Linked DNA regions of Homo sapiens. The protein of the gene in region 2 interacts with the protein of the main gene of each other region in a pairwise test. Each region holds a gene or a part of one and is shown on either strand. Other genes may lie near its edges. The genes, in order: SP8 and HEYL.

Evidence for each region.
Region 1: the proteins of HEYL (region 2) and SP8 interact in a two-hybrid assay, tested with the Homo sapiens proteins (one large-scale study listed by BioGRID and IntAct).

The regions. Positions count from the first base shown.
Region 1 is NC_000007.14:20,784,016-20,788,507, forward strand, and holds the start of SP8 (transcription factor Sp8), read right to left. Parts: upstream 2,872-4,492; 5' UTR 2,784-2,871; coding exon 2,763-2,783; intron 2,029-2,762; exon of another isoform or gene 1,933-2,028; intron 1,781-1,932; coding exon 275-1,780; 3' UTR 1-274. UniProt on the Homo sapiens protein: Transcription factor which plays a key role in limb development. Positively regulates FGF8 expression in the apical ectodermal ridge (AER) and contributes to limb outgrowth in embryos.
Region 2 is NC_000001.11:39,622,827-39,626,486, forward strand, and holds the end of HEYL (hairy/enhancer-of-split related with YRPW motif-like protein), read right to left. Parts: 3' UTR 609-3,660; downstream 1-608. UniProt on the Homo sapiens protein: Downstream effector of Notch signaling which may be required for cardiovascular development. Transcriptional repressor which binds preferentially to the canonical E box sequence 5'-CACGTG-3'.

The DNA.
Region 1 (4,492 bases), on a different chromosome or scaffold from region 2:
ACGAGGCGCGGGTTCCGGCTGCAACGGGTTCAGGCAGCGTTACCCGTGGAAAGGGAAAGCCAGGGCCCGGGACAGCGATGCGTGTTACTTACTTGTCCATATCCCCTTTACAAAGTTAAGTCACAGAAGGAAGAAGGAAGAGGGGCAGAAACAGAAAGAGACAGAGAGCGAGTCGGATGCAATAGGGAAAGGCTGGAGTTGAAGTCCGGACAGACAGGGCCCAAGAGGACTTGGTGGGAGGAGGTCGGGGAGAGGGGCGGGCGCAGGGTGGGCGTCACTCTAGGCCGTTGCGGTGCCCGGGCTCGGGGGGCTGCAGCAGCTCTGGGGAGTGGCAGGGCGGGCTGCCCGCGGCGCTGTGCTCGCTGTCGGTGTCGCTGCCCTTCTTGCCGCCGCTGCCCGAGCCCGCCGAGCCGCCGCCGCCGCCGCCGCCACTGTGCGTCTTCACGTGCTTGCTGAGGTGGTCGCTGCGCATGAAGCGCTTGTTGCAAACTGGACAGGCGAAGCGCTTCTCGCCGGTGTGGGTCCGCAGGTGCCGCTGCAGCTCGTCGGAGCGCGTGAAGCGCTTGCCGCAGAAAAGCCAGTTGCACACGAAGGGCCGCTCGCCCGTGTGCCAGCGCAGGTGCGCCTTGAGGTGCGAAGTCTTGCCGTACACCTTGCCGCAGCCCGGGATGTGGCAGCTGTGCAGGCCCTTGCGCCGCAAGCTCGCCCCGGCAGGGCCCAGCCGCTCTGCCTCCTGGCAGTTGGGGCAGTCGCAGGTGGCGCGGCCGGAGTAGCGGCGAGCTGAGGAGCGCGGGGAGCCCCCCAGCGGCGCCGAAGGCCCAGCGCTCAACATGGAGCCCCCCGCGCCGGCCAGCGGCGACGGGGCCGAGTCCGGGTAGGAGCCGGGTAGCACTGGCTTGAAGCCGTCCATGAGGTGCTGCCCGGCGGGGCTGAGCAGGTGCGAGGAGGCGCCGCTGCTGAAGGCCGAGTGACTCAGGCCCGAGTAATCCGAGTTGTAGCCTCCGAGCGGCGAGTGCAGCGAGGTTTGGAGCCCCCCGGCGGCAGGGTGCAGCGAGCCGGGCAGCGCAGCCGCGCTGTTCGGGTTCTGCACGTCGATCCAGCCGGCCCCCACGTCCCACCAGCTGGAGGCGCCGGCCGAGCCCACCTCGCCCGCAGCACCCAGGCCCGGGTGCGAGGGCTTAAACCACGACTCGTACGGGTGCGCCATGCCCACCCGCGGGTAGATGCCCTGCAGCCCGTCCACAGAGGTGTGCACCTTGGAGATGAACACCGGCTGGTGGGAGCCGTCCTGCGAGTGCGCGGAGGAGCCGCCGCCGCCGCCCCCGCCGCCGCCGCCGCTGCCCCCGGAAACTCCGGGGGCCTGGAAAACAGAGTAGTCGTTGGCGAAGGGCGAGCTGGAGGCGGCGGCTGCGGCGGCGGCGGCGGCGGCTGCGGCGCTGCTGGAGGTGAGGGAGAAGGCGCTGGAGCCAGGCGAGCCGCCGCAGCTGAACGAGTCGGACACCAGGGCCGCGGCAGCCGCGGCTGCTGCCGCGGCCGCCGCAGCCGCCGAGGACGAGCCGCCGTTCCTGGAGGCCCCGGACACGCCGAAGCTTGAGAGACTGGAACCCACTACGTTGCAGCTGGCGGAAGAAGAGGACGAGGAGCGTTTCCAGGGGTGGAAGCCTTTGCCGAAGGAAGAAGAGCTGTCCGAGAGGGAGGAGGGAGACGGGCTGGGGCTGCCTATCTTATTACAGGTAGCGGCAAGCATGGCCAGAGGAGTCGATCCCAACCTCGGTTCTTCCTGCGAGGAGGAGAGGAGAAGGAGTGGGGGAGGGGAGGTGGGCAAAGGGCCGGTGGGGGAGGAAAGGAAGAAATGTGCATCAGTCCTTCGGTAGCCTCCAAAGCGCCCCACTGCACCCCATCTCTCGCTGCGGCGCGCCGCCACCAACTCACCTGGCACCCCCAACAGCCCCGGCGCCCGGCCGCTTCCTACTCTACAGGAGGGGACAAGTTTGGCTGCCGGCGTCTGATTCGGGAGCAAGCACCACGCTAAAGAAGAGTTTGACAAGTATTCTCACCTAAAACAACACTCTCTTGCACACAAAGCCCCAGACACTTCGTAACAAACAAGCAAAAAGTCCAGATTGGAGAGGAAGGAAGTTTTCTTTGCCGAGAAGCCTGGGGGAAAACCATTGGATTGCTTTTAAGAGCGCTTCCCTGTAATCCGGAGAGCTTTGAAAAACCTGTTCGGGTCCCCAGAAACCCATCCTGGGTTGTTTCTCCCAGGCCAAAAGAAATCAAACTGTAGGGCTCACTCTTTCTTCCTGCTTTTCTTTCTTTCTTTTTTTAAAAGCATATCTACAGTAGTAAAAACGAGACGAGTTCAACGTACCTGCGAGACAAGGCGGGCTGCAGAATTTTTTTTTAAGGGTTAGGGGAAGAATCTGCACTTTGCCCAGAAGGAAAAACTTGCTCTCTTTACCCCCGAAATCGGTGCCTGTAAAATGGGCTGGACGCAGGTCTCCCGGGCAGGGAGCAGCGAGGCGCTGCGCGGTGGCTTGTCTAAATGCCCTTCGAACCTTTTCCTGCGCTGAAAAAAAGTGACTCTGCCCCCTTCTCCCCCTTTTTCTTTTCTCCAAACTCACTTGTATTTAAAGAAAAAAAAAAAAAGCTCTCAATAGAGAGACTGATAGCCCGTGGCCTGGCCGGGGCGACTTTAACCCCCTCCAATCGGCAATAAAAGGAAACTAATTAAACCAGCAAGAGAAAATCCTGAGACTCACCCCTAGAAGTGAAGTTGCCATCACACAAAAGTGCCCTCCTCCTCTCAGAGGATCTTTTTTATATTGATAAATCAGAGGCAGTGTTTTTTTTAGAGGTGTGCAATACAATGATCAGTTCCGCCCATTCCACCACAATTGTAGCTCCCTCTCCGGCTTTGAAGTGCCGCGGAGGCGCGGCCAGCCAATCTGCGGCCTCGCCGGGCCGCGCGGCGCGCGCGCCGTGAGGTCATCGGCGCCGCCGCCTGCCGCCGTGGTGGAAGGGGGAGTGGGAGCGGAGGGGGCGGGGGCGGCTGCGTGTGTTACAAAGCGCAAAGCGCGCGCTCGCGTGTATGAGTGTGTGTGTAACAATGTAACTGTGTGCGAGTGTGACCAGGCGTAGGAGAGGACAGTGCGGAGACTGGAGGGAGGGGGGATGGGGGTGTGACACCGTAACAGTGACAGTGTGGTAAAGGCGGGGAGTGGAGAGAGTGCAGAAAAGGGAGGGTTGTGTGATAAGATAACTGCGTGTGCGACAAAGCGGGGTAGAGGGACAGAGCAGTTAAGTGTTGGGAAGGGTGTGAGTGTACGGTAGTGTAACTGACAAACCTAGGGAGGGAAGAGGGACTCAACTGGGTGGGGGGTGAGTGTGTTTGGTGTTGGGGGAGAAGGAGGGCTGTGAACATGTGTATTTGTGCGACAGAGAAGAGGGAAGGGTGTGTGTGGGCGCTTGTGTTGTGTGCGCGCACCAAAGCTGGTAGTGGGGAATGGGAACAATGCAATAAAGTGTGTGTTTGTAAGAGAGAGACTGTCGAGCTGAAGAGAGAAACCGACTAAGTTGATGGAGGCTGAGTGAATAAATATTCACAAACGCTGCCCCTGTCGCCAACTTCCTTTGGCTCCTTGTACCTAAAATCTTGAGTGATTTTTTTTTCTTAACTTGGTAAACAGCGTCACTACATTTTTGAAGAAGATCTTTAAACCCACCTTTTCTTTCCCGGCTCTCCAACGAAATAGTAGAAAGGTTGAGAGGCTAAGGGTTATTTTTAGGGATGCGTTGGGACGTGGATGCGCGCCTGCGCGCCCATGAGTTGTTTCTTTGATGCCGTGGCTTTTTTTTTTTTTTTTTTTTTTTTTTTCCCTGAGGTGGAATTCTGCTTTAGAAGTGCACGTCTCACTCTAGGGGAGGAGGTGTGTGTGTCCCGTGGTGTTGAGTAAATTTCAATACAAAAGGATTAGATAGAGAAGAGAGTAAGCGAGGGTCGTTTTTTCTTTGGGTAAGAAATTGAAGAGCGTTTTACGGAATTTAGAAATTTTCACAGAAAACCTCACTGCCTCTTTCTGAGAAAAGAATCAGGACTTTGATCGAAATATATGGGTTCTATTTATCTAAGAATAGAGAGGAGCTTTTGACAAATCTTGGACATTTATCCAGGCGTCAGTGTCTAATGGCGATTGGGCCAGAGATCTGTCTATGAGTGTGTGTGCATGTTAATAGATACACTTAGTTCAAATTCGGTGGGGTTTAGTCATTTGCTTGCCATTTGTGTTATTAGTTGCCTTCAGAAATGCCATTACAATTTCACTGCCACCACAAGGGAACTTAAACCGCAGAAAGCACAACACCAGTGTAGCAAAAAGTCCAGTCTTTGTAGCCCTATTGAATATTCATAAGTTATAAAAACAGTTCATATTTTTAACCAGTTACAAGTGCTCTCAGAAGTCTAATTTTAAAATGGAATTAACTAAAATGT
Region 2 (3,660 bases):
GTCACTGAGGGCCCGTGCTCAACTCAGAGCCAACGTCTACAGCTCTCCTTGATGAGGTCTCCAGGTCTTTGCACATAGAATGGTTCCCTTCCTTCTCCTCCTGGAAAGCTTCCTCCCAGAGCCCCCTACCCGCTTGACACCCCGGGCAGGGCCACATACCCCAACTCTGCTCCCTTCAGCCTTCCTAACAAACCTCCCTACTCTCATCTCACCAAACTATCATCCTGATGGAGGGTGTGCCCCCCACTCAAAGCAACTGTGTCCTTCCCAGCTCTGGCTCCACTGTGCCTGGCTGGCACAGAGCAGACCTCTGTGTTCGTTGGATTTGTTGCGAGCCAAATCCATCACAGAGCCAAGCCAAGGGTGGAGAGCAATGCCTGCTGGCAGGACAGCCTGCCTGCTCCCAGCTGTCAGTGTGCACTCGGAGTGGACACTCGCACTTGCCTTTGGCCAGGGCCTCCTGGCCACTTGCCAGAACTTCCAGTCCCTTGGCCCTGGCTCTCCCTCTGCTCTGCAGCCTCCCCGCAAAGTTGGCCAGCAGGGGGTTCACACCTAAAGGGGCCTGGACCATCCACGGCATGAGTCCAGAAGATATCTCACCTTCTCAGTTCACTTCTTCAACAAGTATTTATTGAACGCCAACTATGGACCAGGCCCTGTGCTCAATGCTGGGTACAGAGTGGAGACTGAACCAGGCATGGCACCTGGCCTCATGAGCTTACACTCGAGTGGGAGGCACAGTCAACCAACAAGTAAATTACACAAATGGATATGCAGTGGCAAATTCTCCATGAAGGGAAAGAACAGAGGCCTTGTGATAGAGGAACTCCACAAGTAAAGTAGTCGAGGAAGGCCTCTTGGACGAGGCAACGTTGAAGCCAAGGCCTGAGGGTCTGCAGAACTCAGCCATGCACAGGGTAGGGGAAGAGCATTCTTGGCAAAGGGAACAGCATATGCAAAGTGCTGGAGGTGGGAACAAGGCTGGAATGTCGAGGAAATGAAGGAAGGGCAGGTGGCAGAAGCTCAGGGAGCAAGTCTGGGACTGGCAAGAAATGAGGCTGGAAATGAGGTTGGGACCAAAAGAAGACCTTTAGAACAATAGGGTAAGAGAGTGAGGTTTTCAAACTAAAGATGATACGATATGACCTGCAGCTTTCAATTTCTCTCTGCTGCTACTGAGAACTGATTGACAAAGCAAGAGGGAAGACCTTTCTGAGGCCAGGGCAGTGATCTGGGGGAGGTGATGTGGCCTGGCCAGGATGGCTGTGGGTGCAGACAGAAGTGGATGGACTCCAGAGATAGTTTAGAAGTAGAATCTACTGGAAGTTTCCAGAAGCACTAAAAAAATCTTTATTGGATGTCCGCAACAACCCATGCAATGGGGTAGGAGTTGGAGACACCAGGAAGGCTTGGGGATAGAAACACAAGATGCAAGTCCTTGACCACAGAATCAGATCACACAGTCACCTTTCCTTCCACAATATCCCAGGGACAATGAAAGCAAGTTCAACCAAGATGCTGAAAGAGCTGGATCATTCCCATCTCATTTCAGTGGCATCACAGATTCTTTGGAGTTGCATGCTTGCAACGTGGAAATGTGTTTCCCACAGCCCCACTAGGGATTCTCAGGCTAGGAAGTTGCCAAACTGCAAGACTACATCACTGACCTGGTATCCCAGGAGCAGCAGGAGAGGAGGAGGAGGAGGAGGAGTTGTCCTTGTTCCTGTCCTGAGTGGGCCCCTTCATGATAACGGGGAAACTGGCCTTTGCCTTCTGTTACCTCCTCTGTCCCTGTCCCCAATCCTGGGAGCATGTGTGAGTTCTGTCTTCCTTCTACCACAGTCTCCCCTCTGCCTCCCTCCGGAGCACTCCCTGCCAATGACCCACTCTCTAAAATGATCCCCCCTCTCCTTGCTACTGCACATCTCAGATGGGTCCAGGAGGACAGCAGTCTGATGGAATTAGCTCACACTAAAAAATGAAAGAGGTGCTTTCCTCTTTATCTCTCCTTGAGGAGTCTGTCTTTTCAAAAGAGCTTTCTGGGTCACTCAATGATCTCCTCCCTCTTATCCACTTCTTTGAAAGGGCCCTTTTCCCCAAGGTTTCTGCAAACTCACTTTTCAGTCTGTGGAGTCTCCTCAATGCAGCCTCTGGGGAGGGTGGTTCCATCAAAGGGAGGAGGTGGGAGAATCTTCCCAGGGGTGACAACTGAAGTATCTAACCAGTGTGGAATGAGCACCAGTGAACTGCTGGCTCTGGGACTCCACAGCCTTGGATCGGCCAGGCAGTAACCAGATCGTAGGAGTCCTGGGGGAAGTGCCAGGCGGTGGGGGGCACCTGGAGTCACTTGGGGGAGTAGATATTTACCAACGAGTACAGAAGGGTTTCTGCATTTTATCAACTGGTGTGGCAACACTGGTCCCACTGGGTGTCAGTCCAGGCTCCGCTGTTCTGCTGGGAACGACTGCTGGACCATTTGTTTCCTCTGTTAGAAAAAGTGGCCTAGGGTGGAGCCGGGGAATGAAATGGCTTCTGAGCAGAGCCAGCTCTGTGGAGTCCTGGTGAACAGGATCTCAGGCGCTCGACCCACTGCATGACCTTGAAGGGCCAAGGTGCCTCGAATCATCCTTTCTCTTGCCCCTCCTTGCAGTTATTTTTGTCCAGCCTGACAGTCCTTGGCTGTTCCAGCAGTCTGGGCTCTGTGAGCCGGATGCAAACCAGGCAGCACAGACGTCTGGTGCTGAATCCCAAGAGGTTCCTCTCTGCGCACCATCACATGGGGCCACGGCCCCTCTGCACTGTGCACCCAATGGGGAGGGACCACACGCCTGGAGGATGGCGACTGTAAGACGTGGGGGCTGGGCTCTCCATTGCTCAACCCTGGCTCCTGTCTGGGAGAGCTGTCCAAGGCCTGGTGTGAGGACACCCTGTCACAGAGTTTTGCTGCTGCCTAGAAACCTCCCAGCTGGGTTTACCAGGCCAGCTGTGTGCAGGGACCTGTTAGTCAGTGAGAGGGTGGGTGTCTGCTGCTGGGAGGAGGGTGGGAGCAGGCTCTGCTGGGCCCCCAGTCTCCAGGCCTTGGCTGTGGTGGAGAAAGGGTCTGTCCTGTGGTTCAGTGTGATGGTGTGGCCCAAGGACAGGTGGGAAGGGGCAGACAGGGTTCCCAGGAGACCTCTTTGTAGCCCCTGCTCAGTTACTATCTCCAGGAAGCGAGGCAGACACTATGTTCCAGCCTCTTGGCGTGGGAAGGCTGCAGCCAGTCAGTCATTGCTCCTGACTGGGGTCTGACCGCCCCAAGGAACAGCCTGCCTTGGGTCCTGGTGCCCTGCAGGTTAAAGCTTTTTCCCAGACCCAAGGTTCATGCCTGCTGCTGGTGTGCAGAGGGCAGGAGAGGGGTCTGGGCGGATCTCTGAGGGTCTCTCCCAGGACTCATCTGTTCAGGTGAGAAATGGAACCAAGCCTCTGAGACCAGAACAGCTCCAGGAGAGCTGGGTGGATAAGCTGGGATAACAGTGAGAAGGAGAGATGGGTTGGAGGAGGAGGGGGCCTCTGATGGCTGGAGAACGTGCCTTCACATATGAGCCAGTCCATGAAGCAAAGCAGAAAAGGCAGTGCCCTTTTTTGGGCTCCTGGTAAAAGAACCTTCCTTATTCCTTGGGG